4 separate regions of the Homo sapiens genome follow, and all the other regions are linked to region 1. The links come from fine-mapping of genetic effects on gene expression. A gene starts in region 1. Each other region holds a variant in brackets. All regions are shown on one strand. Distances are from middle to middle. Region 1 holds the start of IPO8 (importin 8). Region 2 overlaps IPO8 (importin 8). Region 3 has its middle 87 kb from the start of IPO8. Region 4 overlaps IPO8 (importin 8).

Evidence for each region. PIP is the estimated chance that this variant, and not a neighbour inherited with it, causes the effect.
Region 2: its variant is fine-mapped to the expression of IPO8 in whole blood (INTERVAL, PIP above 0.99). The same link has a PIP of 0.9 or more in blood mononuclear cells.
Region 3: its variant is fine-mapped to the expression of IPO8 in whole blood (TOPMed, PIP 0.94).
Region 4: its variant is fine-mapped to the expression of IPO8 in whole blood (INTERVAL, PIP above 0.99).

The regions. Positions count from the first base shown.
Region 1 is chr12:30,693,369-30,699,710 of GRCh38, forward strand. IPO8 (importin 8) reads right to left here and starts at 2,501. Exons shown (of 25, transcript NM_006390.4): 1 at 2,196-2,501. The coding sequence starts at 2,279. RefSeq lists a silencer at 2,251-2,300 and an enhancer at 2,391-2,890.
Region 2 is chr12:30,658,900-30,665,235 of GRCh38, forward strand. It overlaps IPO8 (importin 8), which reads right to left. Exons shown (of 25, transcript NM_006390.4): 13 at 6,321-6,336; 14 at 4,590-4,755; 15 at 3,428-3,588; 16 at 2,242-2,367. Among named protein-coding and RNA genes, the nearest start is that of IPO8, 34 kb to the right of the region's middle. The variant A/T (reference allele first, on the strand shown) is at 3,324.
Region 3 is chr12:30,606,049-30,612,390 of GRCh38, forward strand. No RefSeq gene overlaps it. Among named protein-coding and RNA genes, the nearest start is that of IPO8, 87 kb to the right of the region's middle. The variant G/A (reference allele first, on the strand shown) is at 3,501.
Region 4 is chr12:30,626,453-30,632,794 of GRCh38, forward strand. IPO8 (importin 8) reads right to left here. Exons shown (of 25, transcript NM_006390.4): 24 at 5,443-5,559; 25 at 2,536-4,505. The coding sequence ends at 4,408. Among named protein-coding and RNA genes, the nearest start is that of IPO8, 66 kb to the right of the region's middle. The variant G/A (reference allele first, on the strand shown) is at 3,024.

The DNA.
Region 1 (6,342 bases):
AAAATATATAGCTCCAAATGAGAATTTATCCATTGGAATATAGGCTGTGGTGCAGAAGCTGCTTATTTTTCTAAACGGCAATTGACAGATCCATCAGTATACCGCAGAAGCTGCTCCCATTCCCTATGCAGAACATACTTGCTGAGGGGAGACCTAGACTAAAGTCGAAGAGGTGGACCATAACCACTTATGGTGATTTACCCACTCATTTATCCAACAAAGTCGGATGTTACAGTGGTGGCAAAGGACAAGCAGGCAAAACCCATCATCATAAGCATGTTTTACTACACTGTTAGGTGACATTATATTTTGTTCTATTTACAGCCAATTCAAAAAACCTTAAAGCATTTCACTATGCTTTATATAAATTATAAATGCTAAATGAGTGGTATAGCAATAAGCTACCTTTAGAAATTGCTGGGGAAACCACGGTCTGTGATGAGGTGGGACACTATGGGGCAGGGCAGAGTGATGATGGAATGGATTTGGATTGAACTACCATCAAGAGTCTACGGCCATACCACCCTGAACGTGCCTGCTTTTGTCTGAAATACCATGGGAAAAAAAATAGGATTGGGTCTTAAATGTCTCCTAGTTCTGCAGGCTTTCTCATATACTTTTTCCACTTCTATAACATCAACTGTACTTATATACTGATGAATCAGAAAGAAATGAAGGTTAGGTGAAGGGCAGGGAAGTGTAACCTGATATCAAAGGAACACCTGGCCTCATTGTGAGAAGGGGGTCATAAACAGGCCAACTCCCCTGTTCATATTAGTAGACTGCAAATTCAGCTCCTGCTTTGTTCTTCCTAACTAACCCCTGGATTACTATTCTTCCAGCCAGCCAACATACAGTACTTTTACTCTGCAAAGCCTGGGACAGGTACTGACTTTAACTTCCCCCTATTCTAAGTGACAGTCCATTTCTTTTTCAGGCACCAGTGCATTATCTTTGGGCATTAGTTCAACCCAACCTCCTCTCCATTGGCAGTGTCTTCACTCTCCCTTTTATCTCTGGGGAATCCTGCATTTATACCTACTCCAAACTCCACCTAGGTTTCCTATTAAAATAATCCCTTTCAAAGATTCCCAACACGCAGCTTTTTAAAGTCAATTCCAACAGAAACATTTACTTAGGACAGTCACACTTCAGTCACACTTCGGGAGGCACAGAATCACCTGGGGGAGCTAGTTAAAATACAACTGGTCCCACCCCCACAGTTTCTGATTCGTTAAGTCTGGACTGAAGCCCCGTAATTTGCATAATTTGTAAGTTCTCAGGTGATGCTGAAGCTCCAGGTCCTGGGCAACGCTTTGAGAACAGCTGATTTTGGAATATTTACATTTTACAAGTCATCACAACCTAAAACAGCTGTTGCTCCATCCCAGTGGTAGCTCTTAATCCCTACTTTTTAGTAAGAGGTCTGTGATTCTTAAGTACCGGTAGGGAAGAAGAAATAAGCTGGAGTTTGGGATCATTAAAATTTTGAAGTGTGGGGGTAACGCTGGAAAGACGTCAAGGCTAATTAGGAAGAACAGGAGACGGAGAAAAGAAAGAAGTCTTACACATTTTAGCATTCATAAGAAATTTCTCCAACACATCTTACTTTGATGTGTCTTAGATAAAGCAGTATCACCATGAAAACTGCCTATTCTTCCCAGAGCACTCTCCCAACAGCACTGCCCAGCGCTCCGCAAAACTCGGCCAATCGGTGTCAAAACAGTCCTGCCAACCCGACAGGAGGAGGCGGTGGGCAGCGTGCTCCACAGCAACACCTAAAAAGGGCTGGGTTTGGAAAAAAGCTGAACTCAGATTTGAACTGTAAGTAAAATTCCCACCTGCTCCCCAAGTCCGCGCACTTAAGGAAAATAAATCACACCCTGAAAACACTAGCACAGGTTGCAAAAACTGCTTCTTGCGGACCAAGTAGGCAGAACAAACTGCCCTGGAGAAGGGAGACGACACGAAAAGGTGCAAAGGTGGCCAACAGGTGCGCGAGCTGTTCGGCAAAGATCCTGGGAGCCCTGCTCCACTGGACCGGGGGGCAGCGGGGTCGGAGAGCGGGACCAGCCGTGAGGCGTCAGCCCCAGCCCGGTGGGGGTGAGGACGAGGGGCGCCGGGGAGAGGGAGCCCGGCCAGCCGGCAGGGGCGCCCCTTCGGCGGAAGAGGGTCGCCGAAGACCCTCTCCTCACCTGGTTGAGCTCGTTCTCGGCTGCAATCCGCAACTTCGGGTCGATGGTGCCCTTCAGCGCCTGGATGATCCGGTTGAGGTCCATCTCCCCGGGTGGGGGCTCCGCGGCCCCCGGAACAGTAGGCCGGACTGCAGCTTTAGTTTTCTTTTGACCCTCTCAGCCTCCTCTTCCGCGACCCCTGGATTACCTCACACCCCACCCCCCGCCACCGTCGCCACCTGCGGCCACTTGCTGCGCCACTCTGACTCCGCGCCCCCTGTCCTCCCTTTTTCCCCCCCACAACTCGCTCTCCATTCACCGTTTTACGACAGCCGGTGGGAGGCGGGAGAAGGAAGAAGAGGAAGCAGAGCTTCCTTTACGGCGGCCTCTTCCCCCGGGCGTGATGCTATGACCGCCTCCCGTCGGCGGCCGCCATGCTGCTGTACGGAAAACGGCCTAGGCTTCTTTCCCGGAAAGGAACCCGCGCTCCCGAACTCAGGCAGGCGGCCGCTATGCTTCCGTACGGTAAACAGCCTCCCGCCTCTTCCCAGGTGAGGAAACTTGAGCTGGCCGGGAGTCTGCTTACAGCTGCTTCCAAATTAAGCATATCTGGATGGTGTGACACTTTTTGTTAGTCCGAGAACTGTATGGGCATCGCAACTGGGCCTGTTCCAAGATAGACTTGTTGGGACCTTCAAATCATGTACCTTACAGGAGGACAGGGTTCCTCCGTGTGTGGGAGTCATCGTTCATTCATTCATTCGCTTTCACTGAACATTTGTTAAACATATATTTTTGAACCAGAGTACTAGGATTTTTAGGTACCACATTATAACAAGATGAATTCCATGCAAGTTAATGTGAAGGAATTCACAACCTGATAGATGAGACAAATATAAACAAAAAAAATTTACAGTGTAGAAATGATAGGGGAGTGCTGGGAAGGGAAGAGCGTGGTCCCTTTAAATGATAGGGATGGGCGAAGTGAAGTGCTGGGTAGAGGAGTGTGTGGTCCCTTGCTAGGGCTCCACGCCCACCGACCTAGGTGAGGACTGACACTCCTGCCTTCCAGCCCAAATGTTGCATTTCCCAAGACCACCCTGGCCTGCCACTCCCCCATACTGTGCCTATGAAAACCCCAGACCCTAGCAGGCAGGTACACAGGCAGCCAGACGTCCAGAGGAGCATAAGGGTGGAAGAAGAGGAGCTCGCTGGCACATCCGCAGGCCATTCACGGGCAGAACGATGCGGAGGTTGGCCTGGGCAGTCGGAAAAGAGCCCGGGCCGCCAAGCGGCCTAACTCCAGAGGAAAACCATTTCCCTTCTGGGTCCCTCATCTGCTGAGGGCTACTTCCACTCAATAAAACTTTGCACTCATTCTCCAAGCCCACGTGTGATCCAATTCTTCTGGTACACCAAGGCAAGAACCCAGGATACAGAAAGCTCGCTGTCTGTGCGACAAGGTAGAGGGTCTAATTGAGCTGGTTAACACAAGCCCCCTAAAGGCAAACTGAAAGAGCATCCTGTAACACACACCCACTGGGGCTTCAGGAGCTGTAAACATTCACCCCCAGACTCTGTCAAGGGGTCGGAGCCCCACAGCCTGCCGGTCTGTATGCTTCTCTAGAGGTCTGAGCAGCGGGGCACTGAAGAAGCGAGCCACACCCCCAATGCACGCCCTGTGAGGGGGACAAGGGAACCTCTCCCATTTCAGAAAGACAAAGGTCACAGAAACTGAAAACTACATCCCTGAGAGTTTTATGAAAAATTTTCAGACCTTCTCAAAAATGTAGTGAAAGGTAAGCAGAAAAGTTATACTGTTTCTATCCACTGTGGCCATATCTGGCGCCACAATTTCAATGGCATGAAAATATCAAGGAGCTGGTTCTTCCTGAGGTTAACCCAGAAGAGAGGGTTCTAATTACATTTAATAAAGATGATGATGTGGGCAAAACACAGCTGAGGGGCTGTGATCTTTTCAGGAGCAGATAATTAAGATAGATTGGGTCAATTAACTGAGTTCAATTGAGAGAGTAGAAAACATGTGGCTGAAAACTTGGTGGCTTGAAAGCTTCCCCCTCAGTTGGATGCAAAAGTGCTTCACAGTGAATTTAACATGTCTAATTGCTTCCAGTATTGCCCCTCTTTAATCCATTATTCACACTATCATCAGAAGAAAGTTTCTGAAAAGTTAATATTACTATGTCTCTTCCTTGATTTCTCATCAATTTCAAAATAAAATATAAACTTAGCACTCCAGAGTCTTATGAACACTATTTCACTAAACCACTCTCTTGGACATCATGAATGTCTAAAAAATTTTTTATCTCTGAAAATCTTAACTCCAATATCCTCTTTTATAATTAGAACTAATTCTTCCATTTCTCTCTTCCTCAAAAATTCTAAGCTTGTTTTCCAATTCAATCACTACTTCAGTTCTTAGTCTATCCATTACTCACTACACATCATTCTCTGCTATTAAACCCCCAATTCAGCTTCTTAACTCTAGCCTTGACCCACTGTGCAAACTGATATCAGATGTATTCTTTAATCAGATGCAACCATCCTATTCCTATTCCTTGCCTTTAATCAGCAACATCTTCCATTCCCTCAGTGGCGTTTCAACTCTCAGGACTCTTCTCAAGCTCCCTACGCCTTCTCACCAAACCCTGCAAAGATGAGCAAAACCCTCAGGCTCAACTCAACAACAAATTCATCTCCGCTTATCCCTCTTCATCTCCTCTGCAGTCTGAACCCCATTCTCTCCCATCTCCTCCAGGACCCTGTTCCATAAATCTCTCCTCTCTTAAATACATTTTTTCATTAAAATAAATTTTAGTCATTATAATGTGCTCATTGTTGACAATGTGTAAGTTTTTTTCGTACTTTTTCAGCCTCTTTTCCTCCACTGATTCAACCTCAGCCTAAAAACATTTCCCCCAGCAAAAAAATAATCTTCAGTAATGCTAATTATTGCTCATTCTTTTCCACTTCATTCCAAAGAATGGTCTTCATTCACTGTGTCAGCTTACTTCCCATTCATGCTTCAACCACCTATCCCCAGGCTTCTCCCCCTCATTTCCCACTAAAACTGCCAAGCAAAGATGAACACCGACCTCTTTAGGGGGTATACCAACTGCAAGAGACATTTTTAGTTCTCAACTTAAATTTTCTCTCTCTCGCGCGCGCGCGCGCGCGCGTGTGTGTGTGTGTGTGTGTGTGTGTGTGTGTGTGTATGTATAGAGAGAGAGAGAGATTGAGAGATTGGGGGAGGGCGTCTCACTTCCATTGCCTAGGTTGTAGTGCAGAGGCATGATCACTGCTCACTGCAGCCTCGACCTCCTGGGCTCAGGTAATTCTCCCACTTCAGCCTCCCAAGTAGCCGGGACTACAGGCACATGCCACCACGCCCAGCTTTATTTTTAGTAGAGACAGGGTTTTACCACATTGCTCAGGCTGGTCTCAAACTGCTAGGCACAAGCAATCTGGCAGCCTCAGCCTCCCAAATTAGGATTACAGGTGTGAGCCACCACACCCAGCCTCTAATATCCGGTATCATATTTCATACTATTTTTAAATTATCTCTTTTCTTGTTTTCTCTTACAGAATACATTCCTAACCCTTTGATTACTCAATCGCCCAAGTCTTCGACGCTTCTCAGGACTCTGTCCTCAGCCATCTTCTCTTTCTCATCCACCCATTTTTCAGTAATTTCATCCACTTACATAACTTTAACCATCAACTAAACAAAGATAGCTTACAAAACTAGTTGTAAGATCTCTTCCCTTAAACTAAATATATCCAAATGCCTATACATTTCTACCAATATCTATCCCTCAAATCACTTAAGGCACATGTCTAAAACTGAACTCAGCACTGAAGATGATAGATTGGAGAAGGGAGAGACTTAAGGTAGTTATTCCAATAACATAAAAGGAGAGATCAAAAACGGTGACACCACCAAACGCTGGTGAGGATGTACAGAAACTGGATCACTTATATGTTGGTGGTAACATGTACAGTGATACAGCCTTTCTGAAAACAATTGGGCAGTTTCTTTAAAAAACTGAATATGCAACTACCATATGACACAGCAATTGCACTCCAGAGCATTGGTCCTAGACAAATGAAGACTTGTGCTCATAAAAAAAACCTTGTGAGTGTATAT
Region 2 (6,336 bases), 34 kb before region 1:
AGACAGAGTCTCGCTCTGTCCCCCAGGCTGGAGTGCAATGGCATGATCTCGGCTCATTGCGAGCTCCGCCTCCCGGGTTCATGCCATTCTCCTGCCTCAGCCTCCCAAGTAGCTGGGACTACAGGCGCCCGCCACCACGCCAGGCTAATTTTTTGTATTTTTAGTAGAGATGGGGTTTCACTGTGTTAGCCAGGATGGTCTCGATCTCCTGACCTCGTGATCCACCCGCCTCAGCCTCCCAAAGTGCTGGGATTACAGGCATGAGCCACCGCGCCGGGCCTTATCAAGCCATTTTTAAGAACCAAGTCAGCCGGGCATAGTGGCTCATGCCTATAATCCCAGCACTTTCAGAAGCCAAGGCGGGCATATCACTTCAGGTCAGCAGTTCCAGGACTGCCAGACCAACATGGTGAAACCCCTTCTCCACTAATAATACAAAAATTAGCCTGGCGTGGTGGCAGGCAGCTACTCGGGAGGCTGAGGCAGCACAATCACTTGAACCGGGAGGCCAAGGTTGAAGTGAGCTGAGATTGTGTCACTGCACTCCGGCCTGGGCAACAGAGCAAGACTTGTCTCTGAGCAAGACTTGTCTCAAACAAATAAACAAAAAAAAAAAAACCAAGTCATCTTCCATTGGCACGTCATAAACACAGGATAAACCAACAGCTACGGCTGGGCACGGTGGCTCACACCTGTAATCCCAGCACTTTGGGAGGCCGAGGTGGGCGGATCACGAGGTCAGGAGATCGAGACCCTCCTGGCTAACAAGGTGAAACCCCGTCTCTAATAAAAAAAATTCAAAAAAATTAGCTGGGCATGGTGGCGGGCACCTGTAGTTCCAGCTACTCGGGAGGCTGAGGCAGGAGAATGGCGTGAATCCAGGAGACGGAGCTTGCAGTGAGCAGAAACTGAGCCACTGCACTCCAGCCTGGGTGACTGAGTGAGATTCTGTCTCAAAACAAAAAAAAAAAAAACCCACAAAATCAAAAAAAAAACCCAACAGCTACATGGTTTAACAATGCTATTTAAAGTAGTAGTAGCAGCCAGGCATGGCGGCTCATGCCTTTAATCCCAGCACTTTGGGAGGCTGAAGCGGGTGGATCACCTGAGGTCAGGAGTTCAAGACCAGCCTGGCCAACGTGGTGAAACCCCATCTCTACTGAAAATATAAAAATTAGCTGGGTGTGATGGTACACACCTGTAGTCCCAGCTCCTCGGGAGGCTGAGGCAGGAGAATTGCTTGAACCCGGAAGGTGGAGGTTGCAGTGAACCAAGATCATGCCACTGCACGCCAGCCTAGGTGACAGAGTGAGACTGTCTCAAAAAATTAAATAAACAAATAAAAGTAGTACTAGCACCTGCTTCCTAAGTGCTCACCTTGTAAAACAATAATTGCCATCAGTGCCAAACAAGTCAACTTGCACTCACAGAAGCAATGAACAAAAATCTAATTTGAGTTAAGGAGAGGCCATGGGATACTTGGGAAGCAGCTGTAGGTTTTAAATGGGGATAAACTGATACATTATCAAAATGATGTGACTACAAACCCAAATGTACAACTTACTAGCTCTGGGACCATGAGCAAGTTTCTTAAATCCACCTGAACTTTGTTTTCTGCTTCTGCAAAACAGACTACCATTACCTGTGCTAGCTATGTCATGGTGGCACCAGTAAGATCATATCAGCTGATGGATGTGAAAGCACTAGATAAATAGCTGTATAAAGTCTTATCCCAATAACACTTTGGAATTCAGTTGAGTAAATATGCTTTTCAGCTCTTTCATTTATTCCTTTCCATTTTTACAGTACTTGTTATATCAGAATTCTGTTCCATTACCTAACACTTGCCACTGTGATTGAACTGCTGTCTGTCACTCTCTACCAAGAATTCTAGATTGTTGGTTCCCAGAAAGCTGGGCTCATTTCTTATTCAATTTGGTATTCCCCAAGAACCTAGCCTGGCACATAGCAGATATGATTAACTGAACTCAAGTTAATATAAAGGGATATACTATATACTTTATAATATTTACATTATAATATTACAAATATTATGATGTAATATTATAATGTTACTCAGTCATTTTAATATGTTTCCATAAAATGTGAGGGCAATTTTTAAAGCCTAGCAACATAACTAAGTAGCAATTTAAAAGTGGAGACTTCAAAATTCATGGCCACTGATCACATAAATTTCAGTTAAATGCTACTATTATATCATAAACCACAAAGAAATCTCACCTCTTTATGATCTTCTACAACTGTTAAGATAGTATCAATGGTATGTAAAATTCCCATAGCCATTACTGTTTTGTCTTCAACTTCTTCATATTCATCACTTTGAAGAACTTTGCCAAATATCTCAGCCTATGAAAATAACATTAAAGTATTCCGCAATTAGTAGTACTGTTACGTCCCCGCTTTACAAAAGTTAGCAAAATGGCAGTGTCACACATCTGAAGTCTGCATTGCTCAAACTTTGAAGTCTGCACTTTGCTGACTGAATCATCTCTCTTCTTAAAATAACAGAACTTGTCATGTTTTAAATATAGCTATTTACATTAACTATTATATCCAGAGAGCTAATATTTAACTTCTGGTTGTCACTAAGCAAGTAAAATCACAATCTAGGACAAGTGAAATCAAGTAATAGTAAAAAGAAAAATGCAATAGAAGATTGAGAAGTCGAGGAATCACTTAGAAAATGAAACAAACAAAAAAAAAAAACAGACATGGAAAACAGGAGGAAAAGTTTTTAAAAAAATTAAGAGACACAGTCCAGATGTGATTCTCCATATCAGGAAATACAAACAGAAAAAAAAATAGTAAGGAGAAATTTATCAAAAAAGTAAAACAATAAATTGCCCCAAACTGAAGGAAATGAGCTTCCTGATTCAAAGCCCAGAAATTAAAACTTTAGAAAGCACATATTATAAAATTTCAGAATATTCTAGATGAAAGAAATTATCCTAAATGTGATTAAAGTCTAATGAACTATAGTAATATCAGAATAATTTTTTTATCAATATTTCAGTTACAGTCATGCATCGCTTAACATGGATATATTTTGAGAAATGTGTCGTTAGGCAATTTCATCCTTGCTTGAACATCATTGAATGTACTTAGGCAAATCTAGATGGCATAGCCTATTGCTCCAAGGCCACAAACCTATACAGTTTGCTAATGTAGTGAATACTTAGGCAATCATGACACAATGGAATTATTTGTATCTAAACATACAAAAGGTACAGTAAAAATACGGTATTATAATCTTAGGAGTGCACCATCGTATATGCAATCTGTCATTGACTGAAATGTTGTTA[A/T]GCAGCACATGACTGTACAAATAAAACTGAACTCCATATTTTGGAGTTTATTTAGATTACTCAAGGTTTCTAAACCAAATTAACATAAAACTGCCCGGTCTTACCAAGTGTTGGGTCATATCAACAGCAATTGAGGCTACCTCTTGACTGTATTCACATATCATCTTCTGGATGACATTAGTAACATCATCATTTTCTGTCTCTCTAACAATGTGCAACAGTTCCTGCATAATAGGCCTCACATGTGGCTTCATATATTCCTTAGCTAATTCAATAAAACAAACAAAAGTAATAAAAATTACCATGCCCAGATGATAAAAGGAATTAACTTGGTCACAAGGTCAAGTGACCCAGGGTAATACCTAAATCAGGTTCTAGATACACACTTGCTCTGTGGTAAGTTACAAAGCTGTACCTAAATAATGTTCACCAATATATCAGTTTCCCAAGAGTAATATAAGGATAAGAAGTCCTGCACAGGAGAGAACTGTCCTGTGCAGAAACTATCCCAAAATACTAATAGCCCCCACTGAGAAATTCTAATTATACATACACTTGGTCATCAGAATGACTTGGAAAACATGAATCAGTTCTCATGACAAGTTATAAAAAATCATGTACGTGAAGACTATCCCGAATACTGATGGGGCCCCTTCCCTGCCCCAGGCCATCTCTACCACCCTCCCTTGCCATGTGTACAATATCCAATCCTCCCACTGAAACATTGCTGAATAGAGGCAAACTACGTTCACGTTCTTCATAAAGCTGAACTTACTTTCAAAGGTTTATTTGAACTTTGATCAGAACACTGAACAAATGAGACGTCTGTTATCACTCACTAGAAATACTACTTGCTACTTTCAAAACTAGGGGAATCAGAATCCCAGAGGTGAAAGGAATCATGAAGTCATTCAGTCCAACTCCCCTAAACTTAAATATGTGGAAACCTGAGCCTTGACAGATCACACACCTTGCCCAGGTTTCCATGGCAAGTTAGGAGCAAAATCAAAACTGGGCCCAGGTCTCTTTATGCCCAGCCTATCCTAGGGCCCCACAATGATTAACATGTTTCCTAACCTAAAATTCTGAAAACTACAGTCAATAGGAACACCTAAAAAGGACAAGAATAAATTCCTACAAAATTCTGAGAGGGCAAAACCTCAGAATTCCAAACCCTGAACCCTCAGACATGGAGATGCATCTTCATTAGGGAAGAAAGTAAATGAAATTATTTGAGAAGATGTCTAAAAGGTATTTTGGCTTTACCTTGTATCTGGTTAGAAATTAAAGACTGAAGAGCAAGGGCAGCTTCAACTTTGACAGGCATCTCTTTATCTTCAATCAGGCTCTTCTTCGCTAATTCAACGGCATTTCTTAGATTGAGCTCATTATGGAACTTCAAAGAACTAAATGCATGAAGTACCCAGCAAGACTGTATTATTAAAAAAGGTAAGTAGGGAGCTATTAGGATTATAGCATTCTGTAATAATATCACAGATATAAGAACTTCTTAGTAAAATATCAATTCTATGAAGAAATGTTTGCTTTTGGGGTAACACAGTAGCCTTAGTTTCTAACTTCTACATCCCCCTTTTTACAAGTAAGGCATTTTCATTACTTCTAAATTACCCATATGCAATAACATTTTTCATAGGAAAGAGAAAAAGAAGCCAAATATGTCTTTGACAAAAATCTATTTACGCTTTTAATAAATATTATAACTCATAATTAATTTGTTATATGTAAAAGCAACTCCAAACCAGTATCTGAAATTCATTTGTCACACTTAGGTAAAACATTATTTTCCCTTACACTAACTGGTTTAGTAAGCTTCCTTTTTTTCACTCTCATAGGTACCAAAAATTTTAAACCTGGTATAGATGATCACATTTTAACTATTAGACCACAGAATCATTATTATATTTTACTCTCTGTGTGCATCAAACACAATCAACAGAAATTAATTCTAGTTACTAAAGACTTTTAGCAAGAGAATCACAATTCATATAACTTCTCAAAGGTAGGAGCCCCACTGTAAAAATGCTCATGTGCCCTCAGCGTCCCTAGTCCACATTTGCCCAGATATTGCGCTAGTAACTATTATTTTATAAAATGCTTTCTAGTGTACAAGGCATTGTTAATATATGTTGTTTTTAGCAAGACATTTTTGTGTTGATATATTTATAAAGAGAAATGCTAGGCTCTTGAATAAAAGTCCTGTTTCTATTTCTCCATAAAATATATTGATTCTAAAAGAATATACACATAGAGCACAATTTCACATGGATTATTAATCTCTCCATTTTACTAAGGCAAATCTACCTAATATACTGAAAATCAAATTCAAGTTCTTAGCCAATCTGGAATTTCATGTCATTTTATACACAAAATAAATCCATTTGTGAATTTAAATTGTATCACTGCTATAAAATCACCTTTCTCATTTCATGTTTTACATATGCAGCAAGTGAGGCTAGGGTGACAAATGAAATAAAACCAGCAGGAAATAAAATCCATAAATATTTTCCTTTTTTTTTGAGACAGGGTCTCACTGTTGTCCAGGCTGGAGTGCAGTGGCACGATCTCAGCTCACCGCAACCTCCGCCTCCCGGGTTCAAGCAATTCTCCTGGCTCAGCCTCCCTAGTAGCTGGGATAACAGGCGCCTGCCATGAAGCCCAGCTAATTTTTTGTATTTTTGTAGAGACAGGGTTTCACCATGTTGGCCAGGCTGGTCTCAAACTCCCGATCTCAAGTGATCCGCCCACCTCAGCCTCCCAAAGTGCTGGGATTACAGGCATGAGCCACTGCGCCCAGCCTATAAATCTTTTTCTTTAATAGTCTGTCCTTTATTCAGCTGATGTGACCATAGGCAGACATTCTAATTGACTCTATTTCATCTCAATATGTGGCAAAAGGTCAATTTATCCAAAAAACATTTATTTGAATAATTATCTTATGAAGATTTAAGATACATAACAGAAATATGAAAAACTTACTCTAGCTCGAAGATAT
Region 3 (6,342 bases), 87 kb before region 1:
GAGGGAATCCTCCCTAACTCATTTTATGAGGCCAGCATCATCCTGATGCCAAAACCTGGCAGACACAACAAAAAAGGAAAATTTCAGGCCAGTGTCCCTGATGAACATTGATGCAAAAATCCTCAATAAAATACTGGCAAACTGAATCCAGCAGCACATCAAAAAGCTTATCCACCACAATCAGGTTGGCTTCATACCTGAGATGCAAATCAACATATGCAAATCAATAAATGTAATCCATCACATAAACAGAACCAGTGACAAAAACCACATGATTATCTCAATAGATGCAGAAAAGGCCTTCGACAAAATTCAACAGCCCTTCATGCTAAAAACTGTCAATAAACTAGGTATCAATAGATGTATCTCAAAATAATAAGAGCTATTTATGACAAACCCATAGCCAATAGCATACTGAATGGGCAAAAACTGGAAGCATTCCCTTTGAAAACTGGCACAAAACAAGGATGCCCTCTCTCACCACTCCTATTCAACATAGTATTGGAAGTTCTGGTCGGGGCAATCAGCAAGAGAAAGAAAGAAAGCATATTCAGACGGGAAGAGAGGAGGTCAAGTTGTCTCTGTTTGCAGAAGACATGATTGTATATTTAGAAAACCCCATTATCTCAGCCCAAAATCTCATTAAGCTGATAAACAACTTCAGCAAAGTCTCAGGATACAAAATCAATGTGCAAAAATCACAAGCATTCCTATACACCAATAACAGACGAATAGCCAAATCATGAGTGAACTCCCATTCACACTTGCCACTAAGAGAATAAGATACATAGGAATACAACTTACAAGGGATGTGAAGAACCTCTTCAAGGAGAACTACAAACCACTGCTCAACAAAATAAGAGAGGACACAAACAAATGGAAAAACATTTCACACTCATGGATAGCAAGAATCAGTATTGTCAAAATGGCCATACTGCCAAAAGTAATTTATAGATTCAATGCTATCCCCATCAAGCTACCATTGACTTCCTTCACAAAATTTGAAAAAGCTACTTTAAACATCATATGGAACCAAAAAAGAGCCCGCATAGCCAAGACAATCCTAAGCAAAAAGAACAAAGCTGGAGGCATCACACTACCTGACTTCAAAATATACTACAAGGCTACAGTAACCAAAACAGCATGATACTGGTACCAAAACAGATATATAGACCAATGGAACAGAACAGAGGCCTCAGAAATAACACCACACATTTACAACCATCTGATCTTTGACAAATCTGATACAAATAAGCAATGGGAAAAAGATTCCCTATTTAATAAATGGTGCTGGGAAAACTGGCTAGCCATATGCAGAAAACTGAAACTGGACCCCTTCCTTACACCTTAAACAAAAATCAACTCAAGATGGATTAAAGACTTAAACATAAGACCTAAAACCACAAAAACCCTAGAAGAAAACCTGGGCAATACCATTCAGGACATAGGCATGGGCAAGGACTTCATATCTAAAACACCAAAAGCAATGGCAACAAAATCCAAAATTGACAAATGGGATCTAATTAAACTAAAGAGCTTCTGCACAGCAAAAGAAACTATCATTAGAGTGAACAGGCAACCTACAAAATGGTAGAAAATTTTTGCAATCTATCCATATGAGAAAGGGCTAATATCCAGAATCTACAAAGAACTTAAACACATTTACAAGAAAAAAAACAAACAACCCCATTAAAAAGTGGGCAAAGGATATGAACAGACACTTCTCAAAAGAAGACATTTATGCAGCCAACAAACATACGAAAAAATGCTCATCATCACTGGTCATTAGAGAAATGCAAATCAAAACTACAATGAGATGCCATCTAACACCAGTTAGAATGGCAATCATTAAAAAGTCAGGAAACAACAGTTGCTGGAGAGGATGTGGAGAAATAGGAATGCTTTTATACTGTTGGTGGGAGTGTAAATTAGTTCAACCATTGTGGAATTCAGTGAGGGAATTCTTAAGGATCTAGAACTAGAAATACCATTTGACTCAGCAATCCGATTACTGGGTATATACCCAAAGGATTATAAATCATTCTACTATAAAGACACACGCACACGTATGTTTATTGTGGCACTATTCACAATAGCAAAGACTTGGAACCAACCCAAATGTCCATCAATGATAGACTGGATTGAGAAAATGTGGCACACATACACCTTGGAATATTATGCAGCCATAAAAAAAGATGAGTTCATGTCCTTTGCAGGGACATGATGAAGCTGGAAACCATCATTCTCAACAAACTATCACAAGAACAGAAAACCAAACACTACATGTTCTCACTCATAAGTGGGAGTTGAACAAGGAGAACACATGGACACAGGGCAGGGAACATCACCCACCAGGGACTCTCAGGGGGTAGGGAGCTAGGGGAGGGATAGCATTATGATAAATACCTAATGTAGGTGATGGGTTGATGCCTGCAGCAAACCACCATGACACGTTTACACATATGTAACAAAACTGCATGTTCTGCACATGTACCCCAGAACTTAAAATATTAAACACACACACACACACAAAACAAAACAAAAGAAAAAGAAAAAGAAACTGTCAACACAATAAACAACCTACAGAATGGGAGAAAATAGTCACAAATATTTGTCAGAAAAAAAATCTGACAAAGATCCAATATCCAGAATCTATAAGGAACTTAAACAACCCAACAAGCAAAAAAACAAACAACCCTGTTAACAATTGGGCAAAAGACATGAACAGACACTTCTCAAAACAGACATACAAGCAGCTAACACATATACAAAAAATGTTGCACATCACTAATTATCTGTGAAGTGCAAATGAAAACCACAGTGAGATAACATCTCACGCCAGTCAGAATGGCTATTATGAAAATGTTCAAAAACAACAGATACTGGCAAGACCATGGAGAAAAGGGAATGCGTATACACTGTTGGTGGGAATGTAAATTAGTTCAACCACTGTGGAAAGCTGTTTGGAGATTTCTCAAAGAACTTAAAACAGAACTGCCATTTGATTCAGCAATCCTATTACTGGGTATATATATTCAAAAGAAAACAAGGCACTCACATGTTCATCACAGCAGTATTCATAATAGGAAAGACATGGAATCAAACTAGGTGCCCACCAACAGTGGATTGAACAAAGAAAATGTAGTACATATACACCATAGAATATTACACAGCCATAAAAAGAATGAAATCACATCCTTTGCAGCAACATGAACAGAGCTGGAGACCATAATCCTAAGCGAATTAATGCCAAAAGCAATTTCAACAAAAACAAAAATTGACAAATGAGATCTAATTAAACTACAGAGCTTCTGCACAGCAAAAGAAACTATCAACAGAGTAAACAGACAACCTACAGGATGGGAACAAATCTTTGCAAACTATGCATCTGAAAAAGGTCTAATATCTAGCATCTATAAGGAACTTAAATTTACAAGAAAAAAGAAAACAATCTCATTAAAAAGTTGGCAAAGGACATGAACAGACACTGCTTAATAGAA[G/A]ATATAAATGTGACAAACAAGCATATGAAACAAGCATATGAAAAAAATCTCAACATCACTGATCATTAGAGAAACGCAAATCAAAACCACAATAAGATACTATCTCACACCAGTCAGAATGGCCATTATTCAAAAGTCAAAAAAGATGTTGGTGAGGTTGTGGAGAAAAAGGAAGATTTATACATTGTTAGTGGGCATGTAAATTACTTCAACCATTGCGGAAGATGGTGTGGTGATTCTTCAAAGGCCTAAAGACAGAAATACCAATGGGATAGACCCAGCAATTCCATTACTGGTTATATACCCCAGGGAATATAAACCATTCTATTATAAAGACACATGGATGTGTATGTTCACTGTAGCACTATTCACAATAGTAAAGACATGGAATCAACTTAACTGCCTATCAATGATGGATTGGATAAAGAAAATGTAGTACATACACACCATGGAATACTATGCAGCCATAAAAAGGAACAAGTTCATGCTCTTTGCAGGGACATGGATGTAGCTGGAGGCCATTATCCTTAGCAAACTAACACAGGAACAGAAAACCAAACACCACATGTTCTCACTTAAAAGTGAAAGCTAAATGATGAGAACTCATGGACACATGAGAGGGGAACAACACACACTGGGACCTAGTTGAGAGTGGAGGTTAGGAGGAGGGAGAGGATTGGGAAAAATAACTAATGGGTACTAGGCTTAATACCTGGGTGATGAAACAATCGGTGCAACAAACCCACATGACACAAGTTTACCTATGCAACAAACCTGCACATATACCCCTAAATTTAAAATAAAAGTTAAAAAACAGGCCGGGCACGGTGGCTCACGCCTGTAATCCCAGCACTTTGGGAGGCCGAGGTCGGTGGATCACAAGGTCAGGAGATCGAGACCATCCTGGCTAACATGGTGAAACCCCGTCTCTACTAAAAATACAAAAAATTAGCTGGGCGCGATGGCGGGCGCCTGTAGCCCCAGCTACTCGGGAGGCTGAGGCAGGAGAATGGTGTGAACCCAGGAGGCGGAGCTTGCAGTGAGCCGAGATAGTGCCACTGCACTCCAGCCTGGGCGAAAGAGCGAGACTCCGTCTCAAAAAAAAAAAAAAAGTTAAAAAACAAAACACAATAAAAACAGTGCTGTAATAGAGAGTCTTGTAAGTGACTCCTTTTATGCCTGTGCAAGAGTTTATCTTGGTAGGAGTGAAATTTACAGGTTATAGGATAATGGCTGTTTAAGTTTTCAAGTTGTTGCAAACCTGTTTTACAGTGGTTGTGTCAAATGACACTCCTGTTAGCAATAGAGCTTTTGATCTCATTTCTTGCAACAGTTAATACTATCTAATTACTTGGAATATTCAAGAATTCAGAGAATGTTGTTGATGTGAATTCTTCTTAAGAAAACTAGGGGAAAAACTAACCAATCATGAATGACCAGGGAAACCTCAACAAAAGGACTTCTCATGGGCATCAAATATATCTACCTGTAAGCTATAAGATGAAAACAATGGGGAAAATAAAGGTGACAGAATAGAATGAAAGTGATATAAGATTTGACGACATAAAACTTTTTTAAAAAGCAAAGATGGGGAAAGAAAAGGTGGAGGAAAGAATAAGCTCGCTAGTTGCTTCATCAATTATACCTGGCAAACAAGAGATAAATCAAGTTGAAAAATCAAGCTTTAGAAGTATAGCATACTTAACAATACAAAAGTAAACACTAAGAAAGACAGTATTATCAACTAAAATTGTATATTTGAGGGGAGGGATGAAGAGGGAAGAAAAGAATATAAGTTAATTTTAATGCTAATTACATTAAGAAAATTATAGATATAATTTTTTTTTTTTTTTTTTTTGAGATGGAGTCTCACTCTGTCACCAGGCTGGAATGCAATGGTGCAATCTCGGCTCACTGCAACCTCCGCCTCCTGGTTTTAAGCGATTCTCCTGCCTCGGCCTCCCAAGTAGCTGGGATTACGAGTGCGTGCCACCATGCCCACCTAATTTTTGTATTTTTAGTAGAGATGGGGCTTCACCATGTTGGCCAGGATGGTCTCCGTCTCCTGACCTCATGATCTGCCCGGCTCAGCCTCCCAAAGTGCTGGGATTACAGGTGTGAGCCACCGCACACAGCCAAATTATAGATAATTCTAAAGAAAGAAGAGAATAGGCTGGATATGGTGGCATGCATCTGTGGTCCTAGCTACTCAGAAGGCTGAGGTGTGAGGATCGCTCGAGCCCTCGAGGTCAAGGCCGCAGTGAGCCAAGATTGTGCCACTGCACTGCAGCCTGGGCAACAGAGCAAGACCCTGTCTCAAAAAAAAAAAAAAAAAGAAAGAAAGAAGAAGAAGGAAGGAAGAAGGAAGAGGAGGAAGAGGAAGAAGAGAAGGAGAAGAAAGAAGAGGAAGAAGAAGACCACGATGAGGAGGAGGAGGAGGAGGAAGATGATGATTATGGTGTAATATGCAGCCACTAGAACAAAAAAGAGAGAGAGAGACCACAAAGGAGAGACTTTTTAAATGTTACACATGTAAGACTATAGAACTATAATTGACCATACCAATGAATGTAGGTAAGTCTTTTACCTAGTAAAAGAAAAGACATTTTCAGATTGAGTCACAAATCTATGTCACAAACCCAATTCCTATGCTATTCACAAGTCAGGTTGATGTATTGTGCACTTAAAAATTTGTTGAGGGTAGATTTCATGTTAAACATTCATACAAAATCCACTAAAAAAAAGAGATAGGCACAAGGGAACTTTGAGGTGATAGAAATGTCTATTACCTTGATTGTGGTGGTGGTTTCATGGGTGTATGCATATGTACAAACTCATCAAA
Region 4 (6,342 bases), 67 kb before region 1:
ACATGTTAACACATTGGACAACCTAGAAGAAATGAGTAAATTCCTAGAAACATACAAGCTACCAAGATTGAATCAAGAAGAAATAGAAAGCCTGAACAGATCAATAACAAATAAGGAGACTGAATCAGTAATTTAAAACTTTCAATCAAAGAAAAGCCCAGGGACCAATTGGAAGAAGAAACCACTGAATTGGAGGCAGTGAAAAAAGGCAACTGGAGCGTACTTTCCAAGAAGTTGCACACAGTGAGATAGCTGAGGAAGGGCCAAATTACTTAGGGTGGCCAGGTGGCCTCACACTTCCAATTCCAGCTCTTTGTGAGGCCAGGGTGGAAAGATAGTTCAAGGCCAGGAGTTCGAGACAAGCCTGGGCAACATATTGAGTCCCTGTCTCTACAAAAAATTTAAAAAATAGCCAAGCATGGTGGTGCTTGCCTGTACTCCCAGCTACTCAGGAAGCTAATGTAGAATCACTCACTTGACCCCATGAAATCAAGCTGCAGTGAATTGTGATCGCACCATTGCATTCCAGCCTGGGCAACAAAGTGAGACAGCCATAGTTGCCCTTTGTGCTTCTTCCTCAAACATAGTCTATCTACAGAGTATAAGCCATCTCTTTATTTATTGATTTTGCAGCCTTTCTTGCTAGCAGACTGCCTAGAAATTTCCCAATCCACCCAGGCAGCATTTGTACAGCAGTCTCAACGGAGAGAGTAAGGTGGAACAGAAAAGACTGCTATTTAAGGCTCATCTGGAATAATTTTTAATGCACGAAACATTCATGCATACACACACTTGCACGCACATGGTCCTAATACATGGCCAAGTTTCCCTTTTATGCCTGGATTATTCAGTCTCCCTTGCTAAACAGAAAACTGTACTATAATTCATTATATTACTTAATGACAATTTAAAATAACTGTTTTCCTATCGCAAGAACAAAAAACCAAACACCGCATATTCTCACTCATAGCTGGGAATTGAACAATGAGATCACATGGACACAGGAAGGGGAATATCACACTCTGGACTGTGGTGGGGTGGGGGGAGGGGGGAGGGATAGCATTGGGAGATATACCTAATGCTAGATGACGAGTTAGTGAGTGCAGCGCACCAGCATGGCACATGTATACATATGTAACTAACCTGCACAATGTGCACATGTACCCTAAAACTTAAAGTATAATAAAAAAAATAAATAACTGTTTTCTTAGGAATCTTCACTGATTAACAATGTAATGGGTCTTACCATCATGCAAGTACAAGTATGTGCCCCATGACCTTTCAGTCAATAATGGACTACATAAATGACAGTATGCACATAAGAGAATGGAGCTGGAGAATTCCTATCACCTAGTACTTACTATACTTGTTATTTTAGTGCATACTCCTACTTATTAAAAAAGTTAACTGTGAAACAGCCTCAGGTAGGTCCTTCAGTAGGTGTTCCAGAAAGAGGCATTGCTACATAGGAGATGACAGCTCCATACATGTTACTGCCCCTTAAGACCTTCCAGGGGGACAAGATGTGGAGGTGGAAGACAGGGATATTGGTGATCCTGACTCTATGTAGGCCTATGCTAATGTGTGTCTTAGTCGCTAATAAAGTTTAAAAAGTAAACAAATTTTAAAAATAGAAAAAAGCTTATAGAATAAAGATATTTAAAAGGAAAATGTTTTTGTACAGCTGTACAATGTGATTTAAGCTAAGTGTTATTACAAAAGAGCTAAAAAGTTAAAAGTTCACAAGTTACAGTAAGCTAAGATTATTGAAGAAAATTGTTTTATAAATTTAGTGTAGCCTAAGTATACAGTTTTATAAAGTCTACAGTCGTGTGCAGCTGCAGCAATGTCCTAAACATTCATGTTCACTCACCACTCACTCGCTCAAAGCAGCTTTCAGTCCTGCAAGCTCCATTCATGCATTTTTAACTTTTATACCACATTTCTAGTGTACCTTTTGTGTTTAGATACATAATTACTTACCATTGTGTTACAATTGCCTATAGTATTCAGTATAGTACAGTAACATGCTGTACAGGTTTGTAGTCAAGGAGCAATAGGCTATCCCACGTAGCCTAGGTGCGTAGTAAGCTACACCATCTAGGTTTGTGTAAGCAGACTCTAGGATGCTCACACAATAACAAAATGCCCATGAAGCATTTCTAAGAACATATCCATTACCGTATTACCAGTCCAGTTTTGACCAGTAATAATTTGATAGTAGACCCATCAGAAAATTGCACCATTTTAGTGACATCTTCCTTTCCTTCGAGGTCCTGCTGTGGTTGAACGCCCTGTGCCTTTCCAGAGCTCCAACACTCTTCTGTGCGGACCTCCTGGTTCATGAGATGGGCTTTCACTTCCTACTTCTCCCCATGTATTAGCTGTTCCTGATAAGCCCTGGTCACCCTCCCAGACCTACAGTCCACCTTGCTTCAGGTCACCAGGTGTCAGGAAAACATACTGATGGGTTATTATCAACTGCTTAAAGCACCTCCACATTTCAGAAAACATTTCACACACAAAAGTTCAGAATCCTGGGAATCAGTCCGCATTTTATTTTATAGTACATTCATATAAGTTCCTGCATTTCCAAGGTAACCAGGTCACATTCAGGTTAGCACTGCTGGTAACAAAATCATACAACTACCCTGGCTTCAAAAACAAGATAGGGTAATGCACATTAATATCTCTTTCCCTTTAATACTGCAGAAGACAATACATCACAAAATAAAATCTCAAAAATCACATGCCTTTTACAATCCAGTGTGAAGGCATATTATTTATGTTAAAATTAGACCATGTGGAACATGAGAATAAAGAGTTTGAAAGCTCTCTAAAATTTCTCCCAATGCCATCTTTCGCTTCTAACTGCCAGTTGGCACATTCAGCTTCAATGCCTTGGGAAGGGAGGAGCAGAGGAAAGCAGGGGGTCACTGAACTCCAAAACTCATGGTTTTCCAGGCTACTTCTATAGACATCACTTAACCTAAAATTCTAAAGAGTTAATATGCATGAGGGAT[G/A]GTAATATAGGAAGCACCTGAAAAAAATTCCTCCAGTCACTGATGGGAAATTTAAGCTGTGAATTTTTGTGAATTTTCAATTCCACAGAAAGCAAAATCTGTATCACATCCAGTAATATGTTAAGTTCTGAAGATACGTTTTCATTTTGCTGAATAAAAACCCTATGACCCATGTTCTGGTCTTGAACTAGGTCAGAAAAACACTGTAATCTCCATATGCAATATTTCCTATAGGCAACCTAAAAGTGCAGCTGCCCCAACCCTTGAAAAGTTTGAGAAGTCAAACTGAGCTATAATAAAGACACAAACAAATTAGGTAGGAGAAAATTCAAATAGGTGAGAAAGCAAGAAGTTAGATTTGTTTGGGTCTTTTTCCTAGATTAAAAAAAAATATTATAAAATGCTTTGGACCCTAGTCCAACATAGCTGGAATGATAAGTTATTTAAAATACAAGTCCCCATCCAGAAAGACAGTGTGCTTACGTAGCACCTGTCTCTTAGAAGTTCAATGTGCTTTAGGTATGATTATCAATTAATTGCATAATTACATTATTCAGAATATACTCAGACTTACTGTTAACTCCAGTGACTAAAGAGCCCCTGCCACTTGCTGCCAAGAAAATGAGTCCTGAACTTACAAGGTTAGGAGTGAAACTGATATGTGTATTTGTTGACCCCAAAAGAAATACCACCCCTTTTCAAGGCAGAAAAAAATGAGAGAAGAGGGAGTAAGACACTTCTTTAAAAAGCCACAAAACATCTTATGAAAAACCACAGCCAGTGCATATTTTATAATACAACCCCTGAAAAAAGCCCCCCAGCAGCAGGGTGAGCAGAGGGAGCCGTGAAGATTTTGAAACCAGAGTGACTTGCAGTAACTGCCTAACAATAAATTCACAGAGTAAAATGCAGAATAGTTGACATATAACCAAGGTTTATGTTGTATCTAGAAATATGTTTTATGCTTTAAAAAAAATTGCAATGCACTCCAAAAATTTTTTTCTGATAATTCATGTACAACAGAAGGCACTGTTATCCGCATAAATCCATTGATTCTGCATGGCAAAAACCTGAGACGTGCAAGTCTATCCAATCCTCTAAAACAACCTTGGGCATTCAGCCTTTGGAACATATGGGTTGTCCTTTTCCGTCCAATGATTGTTTTTCTTTCATTTCATACTTACAGTAGCTGTTTAAAATATATATTTCAGGGTGACAAAGGTCAAAGGGGAAAGAGTAGATAAAAGTGCTGCCTAATGCCAGATGGTAACTGGCACAGCAGGAGGGCCCTAAAAGCAGCCCCTCATTTCATCCCCTTGACCCTCACACTCCTCTTGTGAAATAAAATGCAGCGATGACATTTGGTCAGCTGATGTTCTTTCCTTCAGTTGTTGCTGGGCACAGTCCCAAAATTAAATGCGGAGAGGACTCCTTTGTTTTCAAAGGTGAAGCCTCCCTGTTGTTCAATCTTCTTCTTTGCCTCTAGCATTTTTCAAAAGAAAAGGGGAGAAGAAAAAAAAAGAATGCTTAAGGTGACAAAGTTGGAGATGACTCAAAGGAGCCAGATTCTTTATATGCTTAGAACTGTGAAAGAATGTGACTGGTAGTATTAGTTATCCTGCCAAAGAATAACTAAGAATAACAGACCTATGTCAATAAGGTGGTATGTTCACTACCATCGGAAAATCTGCAAAAAACGAGTGAAAAGAAAACACGTCTCAGAGGTGGATTCTACTTCACTGTCTCTACTGCTGAAAGGGGGCCCAGACTTCTCATATCAGGAAGGCTGACTGAGAATCTGCACAGAACTGAAAATCTAAGTCCATGCAGAAGAGCCAGCATTCTAAACTCTAGATGTCTAGTTTGCCATGTTTCCTACTAAAATTTTTTTGTAACTACAAAATCTTTTCCAATGACAATCTACAAGTAACTACAATAATCAACACAGAGTAATTCCTCCAGCTTAAAAACTGAAAATCAACAACAAGAAACAATGTCAAATAAAGCCCAACAATGAGAAATAGAGAGCATTCCATTTCCAGGAATACAAGCTCCTTGCAAGAATTCGTCAAGTCCCTTTGGCCCACGGTTGAAATGTTTAGGGGAGTGATCCAACTGATTAAGTCTCCCTCGGCAAGACTTATCCCAACCCTTACTTTGTACCTTTGCCTCCAACATAGGATAAGAATGTGAATGAGAACACCACTAGGAAATACATATTAATGTGCAGGTTTTTGCAAAGCTAAGACATCATGAGTGATTAAAACAATCATACAATAATGACAATTCCTTATTATCTTAAAGGGTAAGTCTCTAACAATTTCAAAAACAGTGTTTAGGTGCCACCTGGCTCATCAAATAAGGCTGTCTGTTGGCACTCTGACACATGCACTCCACTCTGGAGGTTACTCTGGCTGACCTGCCACCGTCCGTCGGTGCTCTGCCAGTGTGTACACCTCCTGCAGTGCTGTCCTCTGATCCTCGCTGAGTGGTGCCATCAGCAGCTGGTACCAGGCTGCATCTCGACTCTGCACAGCTGTTGCATTTTGGGAGGAAAAGACAGGAGGGTACAGCGACTATTAATTTACAGAACAAGTAGTAACATGATCAAATTACAAAGAAATTATCCCAGACAGTAAGAGACAAAGAGTACAGTACTACAACACACACAAGGTAATGAAACTTACGCCAACAAAGGATTATTTCTGAGTACCCACTTAGTACCCAGCTATGTGGGAAATCAAAGGAAGGTTAGGACATTGCAAATCTCTAGTCTGCCTAGTTCTCTGTCTCCTTTGCTGTCTTCTATGGATGTTCTCTAAAATCCAGAACACCAGTACTCACTTGTTACCATTTTCCTCTGGAATTTTCATACTACCTGCAGCTTTAGTATTGCTACCACCCCAAGGATTCAAATCTGTACCTCTAGGAAAAACCTTCCCCTAAGCCTCCTGGACTGTTCCATTTGAATAGCTCATCTCAAACTCAACACAACTAAAACCAAATTTAACAATTTCCTCCCAAACCTTCTATCTCTCCATTTATCTCACCAGTTCTATTAGTCTCCCAGTCCACTACTGTGCATCCTTAACATCCCTGAGCATGCCCTCTCCACACCCAAAGCTCTGCTTCTTTCTTAATGTCTTTCATCTGTATGCTGCTTTCCATCAAATGTCACCCTCCCCATTCCAGGTCTCTATACATCTAAATTAATAAAGTGAACCTCTAACACTTGGCTCCCACATCTAGTCCTTTCCAGTTTTTTCTGCACATCATCCATCACCGGGTAACTCCCCTGAAGTGAATTACCACATCTAAA